Linked DNA regions of Homo sapiens: region 1 is linked to region 2. A link means that fine-mapping ties the variant in region 2 to the expression of a gene that starts in the linked region. Tissue or cell type: nasal epithelium. Region 2 holds a variant in brackets; the other region holds the start of a gene. All regions are shown on one strand. Distances are between the middles of the regions.

Region 1 (8,000 bases), 120 kb before region 2:
CAAAGTAGGTTAATTTAGTAATAATAAAAACATTTTCAAAGCTGAACTCTCTCAAGTAACAAATACAAGGCAAAACTATGAATATTTTTGCTATTTGAATAAAGCACAGGTAGCGTTCATCCTTAGAGTCTCTTGGCCTCACATTTTTCCAGGTTTCTTAGCTATTTGCCCTGCCTTAACAGTCCCCAAGTGACTGCTCCCATCCAGGCCTCCTGAAGCAGATCCAGCCTAAGCTCCTGGCAGACGGGCTTCCATCAGGGAAGCAGGACCATTGTGAATATGTTGAATAAGGAATTTATTATAGAAATTAGGGCTGGGCACAGTGGCTTACACCTGTAATCCCAGTACTTTGGGAGGCTGAGGTAGGCAGATCACCTGAGGTCAGGAGTTTAAGACCAGCCTGGCCAACATGATAAAACCCCATCTCTACTAAAAATACAAAAAATTAGCTGGGCATGGTGGCAGGCACCTATAATCTGAGCTACTCAGGAAGCTGAGGCGGGAGAATTGCTTGAACCCAGGAGGTGGAGGTTGCAGTAAGCCGAGATGACACCACTGCACTCCAGCATGGGCGACAGAGGGAGACTCTGTTTAAAAAAGGAAAAAAAAAAAAAAAAAAAAAAGACATTACGTCACATTTGTGGGAGGAGTTGGAGAAGTAAAAGTCTAAAAGTCTGAAAAGGGGAGTTAAGGGATCAGAGAACAATCCTGATTTGGGCAGAGGAGTCCAAGCTTGCAGGGAAATCTGGATATTAGGCTAGGCACATCCAGCTGCTGTAGTGAGAGTACAAAGATGGTTGGTGTAGACATCTACAGAAGGTTGTTGGCTCTTTATGATTGCTGCCTCTGTGAGTTTCTGTGAAGAGTCTGTTAGCTAGCCTGTGGTCACAGTTACTTGTCAGAAGCGAATACAGAGCAGGGAAGAATGAGAACAAACAGGAACTCTCCTGCATCTCTTCTCATTGGTTAGAAATGGCATTTGTCTCTCGCCACCTCTAACCAATGACGACTTTCATTACATCTTGACAGTTGTCACTGGTTAGAGGTGGCGAGAGACAAATGAAGATGCTGCTTCAGTATTGCCTCCTAAGTCTCAGGTAACTTCAATTTTGTCTGTCTGGAAGCATATACAAAAGGGGATTTGGGGAAACATAGTTTCCAGCATAACCATGTTGCCTATAGAACAATCTAGTATGATGACCATACCTTGTCTGCAAAGTATGGGATTTGTTTCTCTAGTCGCTGTCAGACAGGTCAGATGACGACTCATCCTGGAAGCTGGAGGAAATGGGAGGTAGCTTTCAGGTAAATTTCTTCTTCAGTCTTTTCTTTGATAGACTGTTCTTGGGCACAGTTTTGCATGGCTAAGCAATTGGCTGTGTCTTCTCAGGTTCATGAAGCACAGGCCAGGTTGGTAACATATCACTATGTATTTGCTTTCTATTCTTTCCTGTCTCATTTCTCCTATTCCTCATTTGTTGCCCTGGGTTTGCATCTTTCAAGGAAGCATTAGCACTTCAGCCTTCCTAAAAACTCCAGCTAAAATAGTACTCATCTAAGAAAATGCAATGAAAACGAAGTGGGACTTGGATGAATTGATGGGGGAAACTGATTCCTATGAGGCTCAGTTCAGTTGTATGTGATGGAATTATAGCATCGATGGCTTTTAAGAACATCATTATCTTTCTTCACTGGAAAAGTCCATGAACAAGTATTTTCTGAGACAAAAGGGATGGATTAGGGGAGCTGAGATCCTTTTAGTCAACATATGACTTGTGACTTTAACACTCAGCAAGAATGTACGCTTAATGAAAACTTTGCTCTCTGGCACTGGCACTTTTTTGAGCAATAATCCTGCCATAGCTCAAAAAGCAGTGAAAAGCCTGTTATTCATATTTACATATCTATGCCAGTCTGAGTTTTCAAGATACACTGATGCACCAATAGGGTGGAGAAACTGCCTTGATCTCTAGTTCCGCACAGCCCGCTGTGTTTAATCCACCCATTTCCCCAGATGGATGCGTGTAGTACCGTTACCTCTTATTTGACCATTAATCAATGAGATGGGGGGAGACTTTTTTCCCCTGATGTTTAAAGCCATTTTTTAAAACTATTAAAACACACATAGATACTATGGAATAGAGTGAAAAGCGTGAGAACATTCTTACACTAAAACGTGAGATTTAGGTTGTGGTAGTCCCCTCTCTTTCCCCATAGTTTATGGTTCTCTGCTATTAGGGGTTCAGAGAAAAAATTAGATAACCTCTTCTTTTTCTTTCTTTTTTTTTTTTTTTGAGAGTCTCACTTTGTAGCCCAGGCTGGAGTGCAGTGGCACGATCTCAGCTCACTGCATCCTTTGCCTCCCAGGAAGTTGAGATTTCAGGAAGTTCAAGCGATTCTTGTGCCTCAGCCTCCCGGGAAGTTGAGATTTCAGGTGCCTGCCACCACACCCTGCTAGTTTTTGTATTTTTAGTAGAGACGGGGTTTCACCATGTTGGTCAGGCTGGTCTCCAACTCCTGACCTCAAGTGATCCGCCCGCCTTGGCCTCCCAAAGTGCGGGAATTAAAGGCGTGAGCCACCGCGCCGGGCCTAGAGAACTTCTTTAGGTAAAGATTCTGTGTGCTGTGTGTACTCTCATTTCCGTTCACACTTTTGTATTTCTTTTTAAATACATGGGTTTTAGCTTTTTTTCTTTTAAGGGAGAAAGCCATTTCAGTAGAGTTTCTGTTAATGGAACTCAGAAGGAGTAAGTAGAAAGGGTGGCTGTGATGAAGCAGAGGTCAGCATCCCAGCTGCTCCCTTGAGGAGCCTGTCTTCACAGCAAAGGAATGAAGGACAAACTGCCATTGTCGCAGGGTCCCGCATCTATTATTTTGTGACCAGAGGACATGAGAACATTGCTAGTCTAGATGGAAAAAGCTAATCCAACAGGTGAGATTGGAGATTCAAGAGAAACTGCATGTGGGAAGGAGTGCATAAAGTCGACTATGTTTCATAGCAAATCATTTTGTCAGCACAGGGCACAATGAAATGCCATCACAGTTGCCTCATTAGTAAGCAATATCTTCCATTTTTGAAGGCACCCCAGCATGTTCTGTAATAGCTCCCATTAAGTCCAGTCGATGTCCTCTGGACTCCCCCTCCGCCTCCCACCCCCAGATGATGATGACACAAATGTCTTGAAATATTGACATGTCCGCAGTCACTCGTTTACAGAATGTCTGTACAAATATTTACATTACCCCGTCCCTCCCAGCAAATTTGCCTTTAGATTAATCTGCACACCGAACGCAGGCCGGGAGTGGCTTGGAGTGTGGAAGGGTTTAAGGGTGTGGAAGGGTTGTAGTGAGGCGGGACTGACTGACTTTGATCGGCTTTGCCAGGGGCTTGAAGGAACCGGCTCTTCCTTTCGCAGAACCCAGGTGTTTCTCTGGGCCCGGGAAGTTTTTGCTCCCGAGCGAGTCAGGGACGGGAGCAGGCACGCACAGTCGCGTAAGTGTATGAAATGACGACCTCAGAAGGGCGCCCAGGGACATGGGTTTGGCAGCCCCGAGCGGAGGCCGCCAGGCAGCCGTTCCTTTCGGAATTCGGTCTCCCGCAGTGCTCCCGGCTGCGGCGCTCCTGGGCCGAGCGCTGGAGCCGTTCTGGGCAACCCTCCCGAGCGCGGCCGGCTCACCTCCGCCGGACTGCGCGGGGCGAGGGCTCCGCTACTGCGCGCAGGCCCGCGGATGGCAACTCGGGGTTTCCACTGCGGGTGATCTCGGGACACCACGGGTTCCCACGGAGGCCGGGCCAGGGGAGAGCCCTGGCTGTGGGACCCCGCGTGACCAGGGCGCAGGGCGCCGGGTCCTTAGCCCATCTGGCGGCGCAGGGAGGGGCGCCCGGTAGGGCGGGTGCGCAGCATGAGCCCCAGCCGCTTGCCGCTCCACTCCAGCCGGGCGGACGGGCGGGAGCCGGGGGCGGGGAACCCGGAGCGCCGCCCCGCCAGCGCGCCCCGCCCGTGGGAGAGGAGGGGCTGCAGCGCAGCGGACCACTGGAGGCGCAGCACGGTCGCCGCCGCCGCTGTCGGTGCTGGAGATCGCGGCTCGGTGCAGGCGGCGCCCATGCCTCCTCTCCTCCACTAGCCCGCGCGCCAGTCCGCCTGCCGGGGCCGGCTCTCCGCCTCCTGCCTCCCGTCGCAGCCGCGCAGCCGCCGCAGAGTCCGCGGCGCCACCGCTCGCCCTCCAGGTAGGTGTCCTAGCTGCAAAGGGATTGCTTGGGGCGGGCGCCAAGGTGCCCGCATCGCGGCCCGGGGGCATTGTGCGCCTCCGGCGGGCCGAGGACCCCGAGGGACGCGTGGGTGGGCAGCCGCAGCTTCGGGTCCCCAGGACATCGCCGTCCCCCTGGAGGCGCCCCCGGCCGATAGCCCGGGCTACAGGGAAGTGGGGGCGGCGGTGTCAGCCCATTCTCGCGGCCGGGATGGGAGGGGGCGTCTGTATCGCGGTCCCGGTTTGCCGCCCTCCCTCCCCCTCGTTGCCAGGGAATTCCGGCCGCCTGCCACTAGCGCTCGCATTCCCTCGCGCGGGCCGGCGCCCCTGCTCCCCGCAGGCTGCCTGGGGATTGAAGCAGGGGCAGGGAGAAGGACTGATGTAATTGTCAGCGGAAAACCGAACCGGCGCGGGTGAGAGCGCCCGCGCCCGCGAGAGCTAACGCCTACGCCGCACCTTTCAGGGAATCGGGGAAGCCGAGAGGAGCGGCTGGGGAAGTTGTGCATTGGGTTTTATTGTGCGCGTGCACTGCGGACTGCCCTCGCGGGGCACCCCTGCCCACCCGCTGCTGGCGCCCCTGCAGCCCTCCCGGCAGCCTCCGTCCACTCCCCCGGCCAGGGCCAAGTCTGCCTTCCCTGGTTCAGACCGGGACAGCGTTTGCATTGCAGTCAAGACGTGCTTCCCCTGCATCAAGCCGGGAGCTGCCCGCAGATCGTGTCGCCGGGGATGCTGGGGGAGGAGGGAATGGGAGACCTGAGGAGAAAGCCTGGAGAAGTAATGACACAAGCGGATTTTCTCCCCAAAGCTTCTGCTGCGTATAGACACATCTGCAAGGCACCTTTTAAGCTGTTTTTGAAAGTTATAACCAGATACTGATTTTGTGACAATTCTATGATATACCTGAACGGTTGCTTAAACATAGAGACCTAAAGCTAGGGGAAGCATTACATAATGGACATGAAGCAAATGACACGAAACTAAGTGAACCCACTGGGTTGCCAGATTATTTCTCTCTTCTGGACACAAAATCCTGTAAGGTTTTTTCTATAGGAACTTTCATTTTTAAATTGCTGGGCTAAGTTTAGCCAATTGTCTATTATATTCAGTTGTGATTTTTTTTTTCTAAATAATTTTCTTGGACATCTTTTCTTAAATTTAAAAATTGCATACTAATGGTTACATATCACTAAGCTGATTAGGAAATGTAGTCTTCACAAGGTAAAAATAAGAAATTTCCCATCTTAATACATTAACTTTGTTTTCCTCTTGTTTTGTTTTTGTTTCTTTTCCTTCTTTCATCCTTCCCCCCGCCCCCAACCCCCGCTTTATTTTTTGGAAACATTTCTACAGTTTTGGGTACTGCAAGCTCACAACGTTGATATTTCTATCACATGCTACAGCATTGCGGAGACAAAGACTAATAATAAATGAAACAGAAGACCTCGCAGTAACTCTGAGAGTTAGCAGGGTTCCCAAGGTCGAAGGGAAGCTGCAGTGTAATTCAGCAATAATCACCTACAGAGAATATGCATAGCCCTCATTGGGAAAGGCCCTGATTGGTGGATTTTATTATTATTATTCTTTTGCAGTAGGAGTTCATATATTTTTTCCCTAAAAAATAATTTTTCTTAAGGTAAAAATGAAATATTTTGAAATTAAAATTTCAGGCTTTTAGAAAGCCTAAAAATTCTGGTTTTGCTCATATTTTTGGATGCAATGTTGATAACGCCATTATACATTCAGTGGATGGATTACCTTTGGCGGTACCTCAGTTTCAGATTACTATGACTTGTCAGGTGACTCTTGGCTTTAGTATGAGGTAGTTCTGCTGGACTTTTATAGGATCACATATGTAAGTTTTCTTATCCCTAGATTGCTATAACCTTAAGTTAACTTTATTTCAAGGAGAAAAATAAAGTCCTTCCAAGATGAAATCTTTGTGGTTGGAGGTCTTAGTACCACCACAGATACCGGATTAGGTAAACTGCATAAGGAGATAAAAATTCTTATGACTTTACTCATGAAACTGTTGGACTAGAGAGAAGATAATATAGTTTTGAAAGGTAAGGCATACATTCTCAAAAGAAGGATTTTGTTGTTTTGCTGCAAAGGTTAGGTCATAATTATGATACTTTTTAAAAAGTGGTTTTAAATCTTGGGGGAAAAAGGGTCTCATAGTATCCATTGACTTCTGGAACTTTTTTTTCCTCACTCAATATTATATCTCTGGATTCATTCATACTGTATGTAGTTGTAGTTCACTGACTTTCACTGCAGTAAAATATTCCATTATGTGTCTTATAACGCAGTATGTTTCTCTTTTCTCCTCTCTGACCATTTTTTTTTTTTTTGAGATATTGCAGTGTTGCTCTGATTATTGTTGTTTCCTGGGCACACGTGCCAGTGTTTCTCTTGGGTTAATACCAAGGAATAAAATTGCTGGTTTGTAGGTTATGTGAATATTCAACTTATTAAGTATTGCCAAATTATATTCCCAAATGGTTGTACTAATTTACATAAACCAGGGAAACAACCAAATACAAACACTAAATAAAAACATGCACTTCTGTTTTGCATATATGTCTGTTGAAATACATATCTTTTTAGAAAGCAAGAGAATGATGAACGTAAAACTTAGAATGGCAGTTATCTTTTATATGGACTGGAGGGTAGCATGTGGGGAGGAACACACACATGGATGTTTGTTATTGATAATGACCTAGTCCTTGGGTTTCATGGTGAGTTTCTAGGTGATCATTGTACAGTAATTCCCCCGTTATCCAAAGGGAGTATGTTCCAAGTTCCCTAGTAGATGCCTGAAACCTCCGATGGTGCCAAACCCTATGTATATGCTTCTTTTCCATGCATAGATACCTATGATAAAATTTAATTTATAAATTAGGTACAGTAAGAGATTAACAATCATAATAAACAGAACAATTATTAACACTATACTGTAATAAAAAGTTATGTAAATGTGGTTTCTCTCTCTTTCAAATTATCTTATTACACTGTATTTACCTATTCTCAGAACCAGATTGACCATGGGTAATTGAAACTTTGGATGGGGGTAGATATTGTATTAAAAAAAAAGAAAGAGGATAATGCATGGACCAGTGATGATATTTTAAGGTTCTAAGGAAAAAGAAAATAAGGACAATAGAGTTATCACAAGACAATAAGCCTACAAGATATTAGTTGAAAGATGAAGATGCAGTCCCTATGCATAGGCATGAGTTGCCCAGAGTTCATGGAAGAAATTTGCAAAAAGGTTGAGCAGGAAGTGGTCATGCTGAGAAGAGGAAGGCTGTTGTGGACTTAGAAAATGATATGAACAGAAGTTGAGGGAGCCATGAGAAATTTTCCAACAGTGAACCACTCAAAGCATTTATACACTAAGTTTAGGGAACAGATAGGTGGGGACTACCAGGAGAGATCCAAGGCTCCTCGTTAGGAGGCACTGCTGATTGAGATGAGAGTTCTCAAGTTTGGAGAAAATGAAAAGGATTAGTTTAAAAACTAAAACTACTGTCCTAAAAAAGAAGAGGAGAGTCAAAGGTATTTGACTATAATGAAAAGAAATATGAAGAATCTTGGCGTGTAGTATCAATTTTTTTTTTTCTTTCCAGACAGAATCTCGCTCTGTCGCCCAGGCTGGAATGCAGTGGCGCAATCTTGGCTCACTGCAACCTCCTGGGTTCAAGCGATTCTTCTGCCTCAGCCTCCCTAGTAGCTGGGACTACAGGTGCATG
Region 2 (8,000 bases):
TTGCCAACAGCTAATGAGCAGTGGAGACAGGATTTGCTCCCTGGAACCCAGTTTCTGGAGCCCTTGTTCTTGGCCCCTCCACTATTAGATGTTGTAATGCTTGCCAAGCTGGATGTCCAGGCCTCCTGTATACTTTGAAGTGAACCTTGTAGGCAGCATTTGTCAATCATTTTTTAGTTAGGTATTGCCTCCTCATTTTTTTCCTTGAGCAATAATAGTAATTTTTCACATCCTTGATGGCTTGGGAAACTGTAAATCAAATGGTACATAGACTAAAATGTTAATAGTTATTATGAACTGTTGCCATCATAGGTGAGTTCTATGCTATCTGTGCTTTTCTCAATTTTTTGCATTTTTACTACACGTATTGCTTTTGGAATGAGAAGTTTTGATCATCTTTTTGCAATGAGAAGTTTTATTGACAACTGCTGTTAACCTTTCAACGAGCAGCTCCACAGCTTTCTTGGCATCGCCACCTTTTGGAGATCTCTGTCACTGTTGCATGGTGTTTACGGTACATGTTCAGTCCATGTCAAATGTGCTGAAATTGAGACCACTAGAAAGAGATTTGTTACCTGCAATGTGTTTTCCTAAAGGTCATATTTTATGAGTTTGTGTGTGTGTAGCTTTAAGACAGTATTTGGAATGTAGTAAATATGACAAAAGTGTCAGCAAATATTAAATATCATTATCTATTATATAATGGCACACAGATACTCATTACCCACAGATGATTCAGAACCCAGTGCTACTTGGTTAGGAGTCTGTTCACTGCTTTCCCTGGTGTGCCTGCCAAAGCCTTTCAGCTCTCTAGGCCTGCCTTTATCAGGTTTTTACTTTGGAGGTTATCTCTTGTTACCTTGAGATGACTGGTTTTGGGTGACATTTTTATAGCAGCAAATTCGTCTGTCAGATCCAAGATTAGCACTGCCTGTTCGGTTCTCAGGCATCACACCAAATAGACAGGGCCACAGTATCATGAGTTAATGAAGCCCAGAGGGTCTCATTCAGTAGGCCCTTGAAAAGGCCTGAGAATCTGTTGTTTACAGAAGCCACCCCAGGAGACTGTTATTCACTCAGTTTTGGAAATGATCACTTTACAGAGAACATTTTTAGGTGTTTCATTAGAACTATAAAAACGTCATCCCAAAGGACCATAGGTCTACAAAACTGCTTTATTTGATTTTCAACTTGGACAAACAGAAAATCTTACCTCCCTTTGTCCAGTATCCACTGTAACTCTCCTGGACTGGAAGTGAAATATTCTTACAAAGGTAAAGGAAAGTTCTGCACATACTGTATGTTTTATATTTCAAGTGCCAGACTTCCTGACCTCAACTCCCAATTAAGAGCTGATTTCTCAAAAATTTTAATAGCCAGCACTGGTGAGGCTTCAAGGAAATAGATACTCTCCTGCACTACTGCTAAGCATGTTAATTGATTTAGCTTTTTTGGAGTGAAATTTAGTGATATGTATCTAAAGTCTTTTTAAAAAGTCATACCATGGGACCCAGTAACTCAGCTTCTAAAAACATGTATTCTAAGGAAACAAAGATACATGTTAAAGATTTCAGTTAAAAAAATGTTTATCAAAGTATTTTTATAGTGGTAAAAAAATTAGAAACAGTCTAATGTTCAACAGGAGATATTTAAATAACCTCTCTCATAGCCACACAGTGAAATATTGCACAGCTGCTAAAAATGCTTTTGAATATTTAATGCTGTGGGAACCTTTTACTTTTAAAACCTCTGTAGCCACAGTTTCCAGATCCGTGGATTGAACCAGCCATTGTTGAGCCATATGAAGAGTTACATACATAACATGGTTTATGTAACTGCCGTGGATTGAAAATATCCCCCCTGCTACAACACAACAATCAAAATAATGCAAATAAAAAACAATACAGTATAACAACTACTTACATCGCATTTACATAGTATTAGGTATCACAAGTAATATGGAGATGATTTAAAGTATATGGAAAGATGTGCATAGGTTATATGCAAATACTATGGCATTATGTATAAGGGACTTGAGGATTTGTGGATTTTGGTATCTGCAGAAGGTCCTGGAGTCAGTCCCCCAAGGATACCAAGGGAGGACTGTATTGCTAATTGAAACCAAAAAACAAACAAACAAAAAGGCTATTAAATTGAAAAAATAGTACAATTTTTATTTTGTTTTTAAGAATTGAGTGTGTATATGCATTGAAAAAAAGCTGAAAGAAGATATATCAAAATATTGAAAAAGTTTATTGCTGGTTATGGGTGGTTTTAATTTCTATTTTTCTGTTTTCCCCCCAAAATTTCTGCAAAGAATGTGTTTCTCTAAAGGTCATATTATATGAGTTTGTGTGTGTATATCTTTAAAACAGTATTTGGAATGTAGTAAATATGATAAAATTGTCAGCAAATATTAAATATCATTATGTATTATATTAAAATATAATGAAATTGCAAACCCTACCTCGATAAGAATAAAATTAGAAGTTAAATGAGTATGAAGGATATTATGCCACATAGGAAGCTTGGCACAAGTTTTTCAAACCACTTTGAGGTGCTGAGGCATGAGGTGGGTCACCTTTTGTCTTCTTTCCTGCTTACATTTGATCTCACGGTAATTTAACTTAATTATGTCGCAGCAGAAACTTAGACACCATATATATATATATATATATATATATATATATATATATATATAGAATAATTATTCATTCATTCAGCAAACATTTATGAGAACATATTGTATATGATGAATATTTGCTGAATGAAAGAACATATATTCTCATAAATATAAGATCTGATATCAATACATGTTCTTATAAATATTTGCTGAAAGAATGAATATGATATATATATGAATGATATGCTCTCAGTTTATAAGGGTGATCAAAACAGTCCAACTTTCTGTCTCAAATGAACCTACATAAATATTAAAAAGATGTATATGGACTTTTTTTTTTTTGCTTGTATTGTTAGCAAAATCACGTAAGTGATTATCATACTAAAAAATCCTTACCCTGGGTAATTTTAAAAGCCTTTTAGAAAATTACAGATTAACTTTAGTATTATTTTCAGGTCACAGTTTTCCTGCCTTTAAACTGACTCTACATGTTCCAGAGCGTTAGCTCTTGATATGCCCTGGTATTTGTCTATGTGATTTGCCATTTGTTTATAATTGCCGTAAT[G/A]AAGCATGATCCGTATGTGCTTATACTCTGGTTGCTGTGGTTTCCTCTGATTTAGTTATGCTGTTGAGTGTTATGAGTACAGAATAAGGAGGAAGTTCACCAGTAAGCTCTGGTTCTATTTCTACTTAAAGGCAACTGTGGGAATTAAAAAGCTGTTTATTCCCATACCTTTTATCTCTTTCATAGTCAATATTGCTGAACTACTCTTTGCTATCAATGGACCACTTGATGGGTCCACATGGTATTTCTTACAATACAGGGTGTCTTAAAACAGGCCAGTTCAATGGTGAGGCTATAGTGGTTGATTCATAATTCTGTGCAGGAAGGGATGGGACTGTGCTCACTTTGCTTTTCTCCCTTCAGAATTTCCCAGGTGTGCTGTGTAGACTTTTTTCAGCCACTGTTTCTAAAATTTTCTACTTTCATTCATTTTAAGGGTGCTTATATAGAGACCTACTGTTAATGCACTTCTGCATCTTTCAGTGAAGGCCAGATAATGGAGAAAGTAGTATAATTGCTACTTCTTCAGCCATGGCCTTTTGGCTTTGGTGATTTTAATATTTTATGCTAGTGCAAAGAAAAAACTGTTTTGAAGGAAAATCCACATGCATCTTCTGCTGCAGGCATTCAGAAGGATGCAATCTATGCCGCCATCACTGCTGTTGCCTTCCCATTAGAGAATATCTAGGCCATCTCTCTCAACTCACGTTGACAGCTCTCTCACCAAATTTTGATGTCCTGATCATGAGGTGATGCTGACCATGGTTACTGGGTTTGCTGGGTAACGTGATGGTCATGGAAGGCACGGCTTCCTCACTTCCAAAAGGGCTCCCAGGTGTCAGACACCAGCAAAGTGTTTGAAAGTCATCTTTCTGTGGCATGGGAATGCGTAAGATTCCTAGATATTTATTCCTGTAATGTTTATAACTGAGATGATAGCTGCTATTTATTGGGTGCCTACTGTGTGCCAGCCTTTGGGCAGCACTGTGCATACACTGGATGCCTACCCTGTGACTTGCAGTGTCTTGTAAGGTAGATATTATTATCCTCATTTTACAGATAGAGGACACTGAGGTTGAAAGAGGTTAATGGTTTGTCTACGTGTCATAGTAAATAGCAGATGAGGGTTGGTATGCTGGTCTGTAGAGCTGCAAAATTTATGTTCTTTTGTCTGCACCATACACCATACCCCCAAAGTAAAAGCTAGCTGACTTGCTCTCAGTTCTGGAAAATTACAAATTGTCTGGTTTGAGTGTGTTTTTGAAAATAAAATAAAATTAGAAATTGGAAATTAACTTGAGTGTGCTGTAAGGGTAACAAAGAAATTATCCCTAAGATTGTACCATATTTAAGAGTGCTATAATTTTTTCTTTTTTATTTCACTCATTTCTACTTCTCTATATCCACAGAAGATTGTGGTAAAGAATGCTTTGTGATATGTTCATTTATCAATTTGAAATTTCTGTTATTTTTGTCATTTGACATTAGCTTTCATGTTAATTCAGAAGGCCATATATACAAGCTTGACTCGAGTAAAATCTTGTCACCTTCCAACTCCAACCCTTAGTGACTGTGTGCCTCTCTTAATCTCTATATCCCTTTATCTGGTCAGTCAGGCAGATCATTAAATAGTCATTATTCAAAGGCTTGTGAAGATGGAATGCAATAATTCATGTAAAGCATAGAGATAGGAATGTAAAAACCAGTAACTATTAACTGCCATTGTCATCATTATCATCAACACTATCCTACAGAAGTTACTAGTACCACTGAAATAGTGTTGCTACGTTCAAAGTAGCAGCTATAACTAGAAGAGATACATGCGAGATAGCTGAAAGCTTGAAGAACGTACTTTAGAAATTCCTAAATTATTTTGGATATTTTTCTTTGAAAATATTTTGGGTAATCTGTGAATATAAAAATAGCTTAGCTAAGATAGTTAGGTGAACAATTTCAATGGAGTTAACATTCAGAGAGCAGTGGACCAATTCTCTTTACTACTGTCCTAAATTTATAGAAAAAGTGAGTCTGTAAAGAAATTTGTAGCCTCAGTCTAAAACATTTCCAGCAATGTCTTTATATCTTTGTAATGAAATTTAAGTAAGTAAATGACAAGATCCCTATTCAACAGATCTCCTGGACTCTCATTTTGAGAATCACGTTTCTCTCCGCGTGAGTTGCACCAAACCATTCAGCTATTATTAAGTGTCTCATTGTCTGTCTGTTTACCTATGTCTTTGATACCAAGTAAACTAGACTACAGTCATGTTGGCACATTTCCACTTGCTGCTCAGGAGGTATTGAGATCAATGAACACTAACCTGAGGAGCATATTTTTACCAAATTAAAGAGCTACAGTGAAATATGTGTTCCAGGTTCCTGGTTTTAAGCTAAATATGCATCAGTTATCTCTGATCAGGGGAAACAGAGGGCGGGTAAGTACTTCCACCTTCTCTGTGTGTTCTAAGTTCCTTAAAAAACTGACCTGGAAATTAACTTATAATTTTAGCATTTGAGAGGAAACTTGATTTTAGAAGAATAATTAACTGGTTTACATAACCCTTTATTTAACTTGCTTACATAATGTGTGTAACACCTTGAAAGTAGTGGCATGTGTTTCCAATTCACTCTGAAAGAATATGAAAACAGCTATCTTGTGAAGAAAAGTACAAAAATTATACCACAAATTATGATCTTAAAGGAAGCCTTATGAAAAGAACTGATTTTTATAACTGAAGATGTCATGAAATTAAATTTGATGTGTTCCCTAATGACTACTCATAGCTTTAAATTGAATAAGTAAGAGTTCTGTGATTAATCCGCTAGATTTTCCTGTTTTAAAACTTAGGCTTTTTAACTGTTTTCAAAAGTTCTATCCTATTGGAGCATGATTTTTATAATTCCAAGATAGGCTGGGTGCAGTGGCTCACGCCTGTAATCTCAGCACTTTGGGAGGCCGAGGCGGGTGGATCACAAAGTCAAGAGATCGAGACCATCCTGGCCAACATTGTGAAACCCCGTCTCTACTAAAAATACAACCGGGCGTGGTGGCACGCACCTGTAATCCCAACTACTCTGGAGGCTGAGGCAGGAGAATCTCTTGAACCCGGGAGGCGGAGGTTGTAGTGAGCTGAGATTGTGTCACTGCACTCCAGCCTGGCGATGGAGCAAGACTCTGTCTCAAAAATAATAATAATAATTCCAAGATAAAGCTGGAAGGTAATTGATTGCTGAAGGACTGTTCTCTGCAAATTAGCACTAAAAAATTCCACACATTTTTGACTGGCTTCAGTGTGCAGATTGTTGTGCTAGGATGGGGTGGATTACGGGTAGAGAAGATGGAATTCCAGGATGAAGATGAGCTTGTCCCCACCTTCAAGGAGCACTCAATCTAGCTAGAGGCCAGGACTGGGTATGGTCAGTTTAAACTGTCTTCTTTATAGCTGCTGGTGTAAAAAAATACAACATTCAATTACTTAGATATTTCATTTAAAATAACAAATTGCTTGGTATATAATTACATAACTTTAGGGTTATGCTTTTTTTAAAACCATGAGTTTGGAGAAAATTCAAGGTAGTGGATTAATTTTTTATTATTGAATAGACAATGATAGGTTCTAGACTCGTGAGTTTCTACAAGAGCTGTTGGCTTCTTCATTGTCATCCTGGAGGTTACATGGAATAGCTTATTTTTTGAAGCTAGTTACAATTACAATAATGGGTAGCAGCTGGTAGTTTTCTAAATTGTCCTTTAACTTTTTCAGTAACAAATACATACATTAGTGATAATAAAAATATTCATTTACTTGCTATGTCTCACTAAATGTTTTTTATGATTCTCTGGGCTTTGACAAATCAACAGAATTTAGGGTTTAGATATATTGTGCTATATTTGAAGTGATTGAACTTCTTATTTTTCTTCCATAATATAAACTGTTTTGTAACATCAAATGGAGAAGAGACTAATATTGTTTTCTTTGTGCTAGGTACTGTGGTAGGTATTTTACAGTTGTGGGTCCTGGTTTGTGTGGTTGCTAACTAACCCTTCTGACCCACATAATTCTGGCAACATCTTAAGTATCCCCTCGTATCTATACAGGAAAAATTTATTTCCATCACACTTCAAATATACCACATTGATTTCTATATCTATGGCTTGACTTGGAAGTTAGGGGATTTAATTTCCTTTCCCTAGCTTAGTTACTTTATTTCCTGCCTACATAGTTACTAAGGTCAAGTTTCTTTCCAGGTTTTGTTTTTCTTACCACGTTTTTTTGGAGGTGGGGGAAACAGTTGGTGATGTATCTGTGTTTTATTGCCCAGCAACCTGAAAGGATGGGGATCGGGGAGAGTCGTTAAAGAGAAGCTCAGATCAGAGATACCTGACTGGAAGATTAAAGTAAGCAAAAGCAGTAGCCACATGAAACAAGGTTAATATGTGGGCTTACAAAGAAGTCCTAACCATGATTTGGTCTTTTGTATGATAAGAACTCTTTCTAGAATATAAGCATCATAAGAGTAGTTCTCTTGTCTGTTTTGTTCTCTGTGGCCCTGTCATCTGTGCCTGGCAAAGTGTAGGTGCCTAATAATGACATGTTGATAAATTGAACTATGAATGAATAAATAACGTATTTCACTGGTAGTTTCTGGTCTTGTACTTTATTATATTTATTTGAATGAAGTTTTTTGTTGATATTCTATTAAATAGTGAGGGAGAAACTTGCTACTAAAGTGTGTAATTTCTAAATGGTTATTTCAAAAATTACGTTGGAAACTTCTTTTCCTATGGAAAATTATCTCAAAGTATAAGGT

Evidence for each region. PIP is the estimated chance that this variant, and not a neighbour inherited with it, causes the effect.
Region 1: it holds the start of OSBPL6, and the variant in region 2 is fine-mapped to the expression of OSBPL6 in nasal epithelium (TOPMed, PIP above 0.99).

Annotation. Positions count from the first base shown.
Region 1 is chr2:178,190,447-178,198,446 of GRCh38, forward strand. It overlaps OSBPL6 (oxysterol binding protein like 6), which reads left to right and starts at 4,066. Exons shown (of 25, transcript NM_032523.4): 1 at 4,066-4,228. RefSeq lists silencers at 3,620-4,309, 4,756-5,050.
Region 2 is chr2:178,314,780-178,322,779 of GRCh38, forward strand. The region is part of intron 3 of OSBPL6 (oxysterol binding protein like 6); the gene reads left to right. Among named protein-coding and RNA genes, the nearest start is that of CHROMR, 95 kb to the right of the region's middle. The variant G/A (reference allele first, on the strand shown) is at 3,189.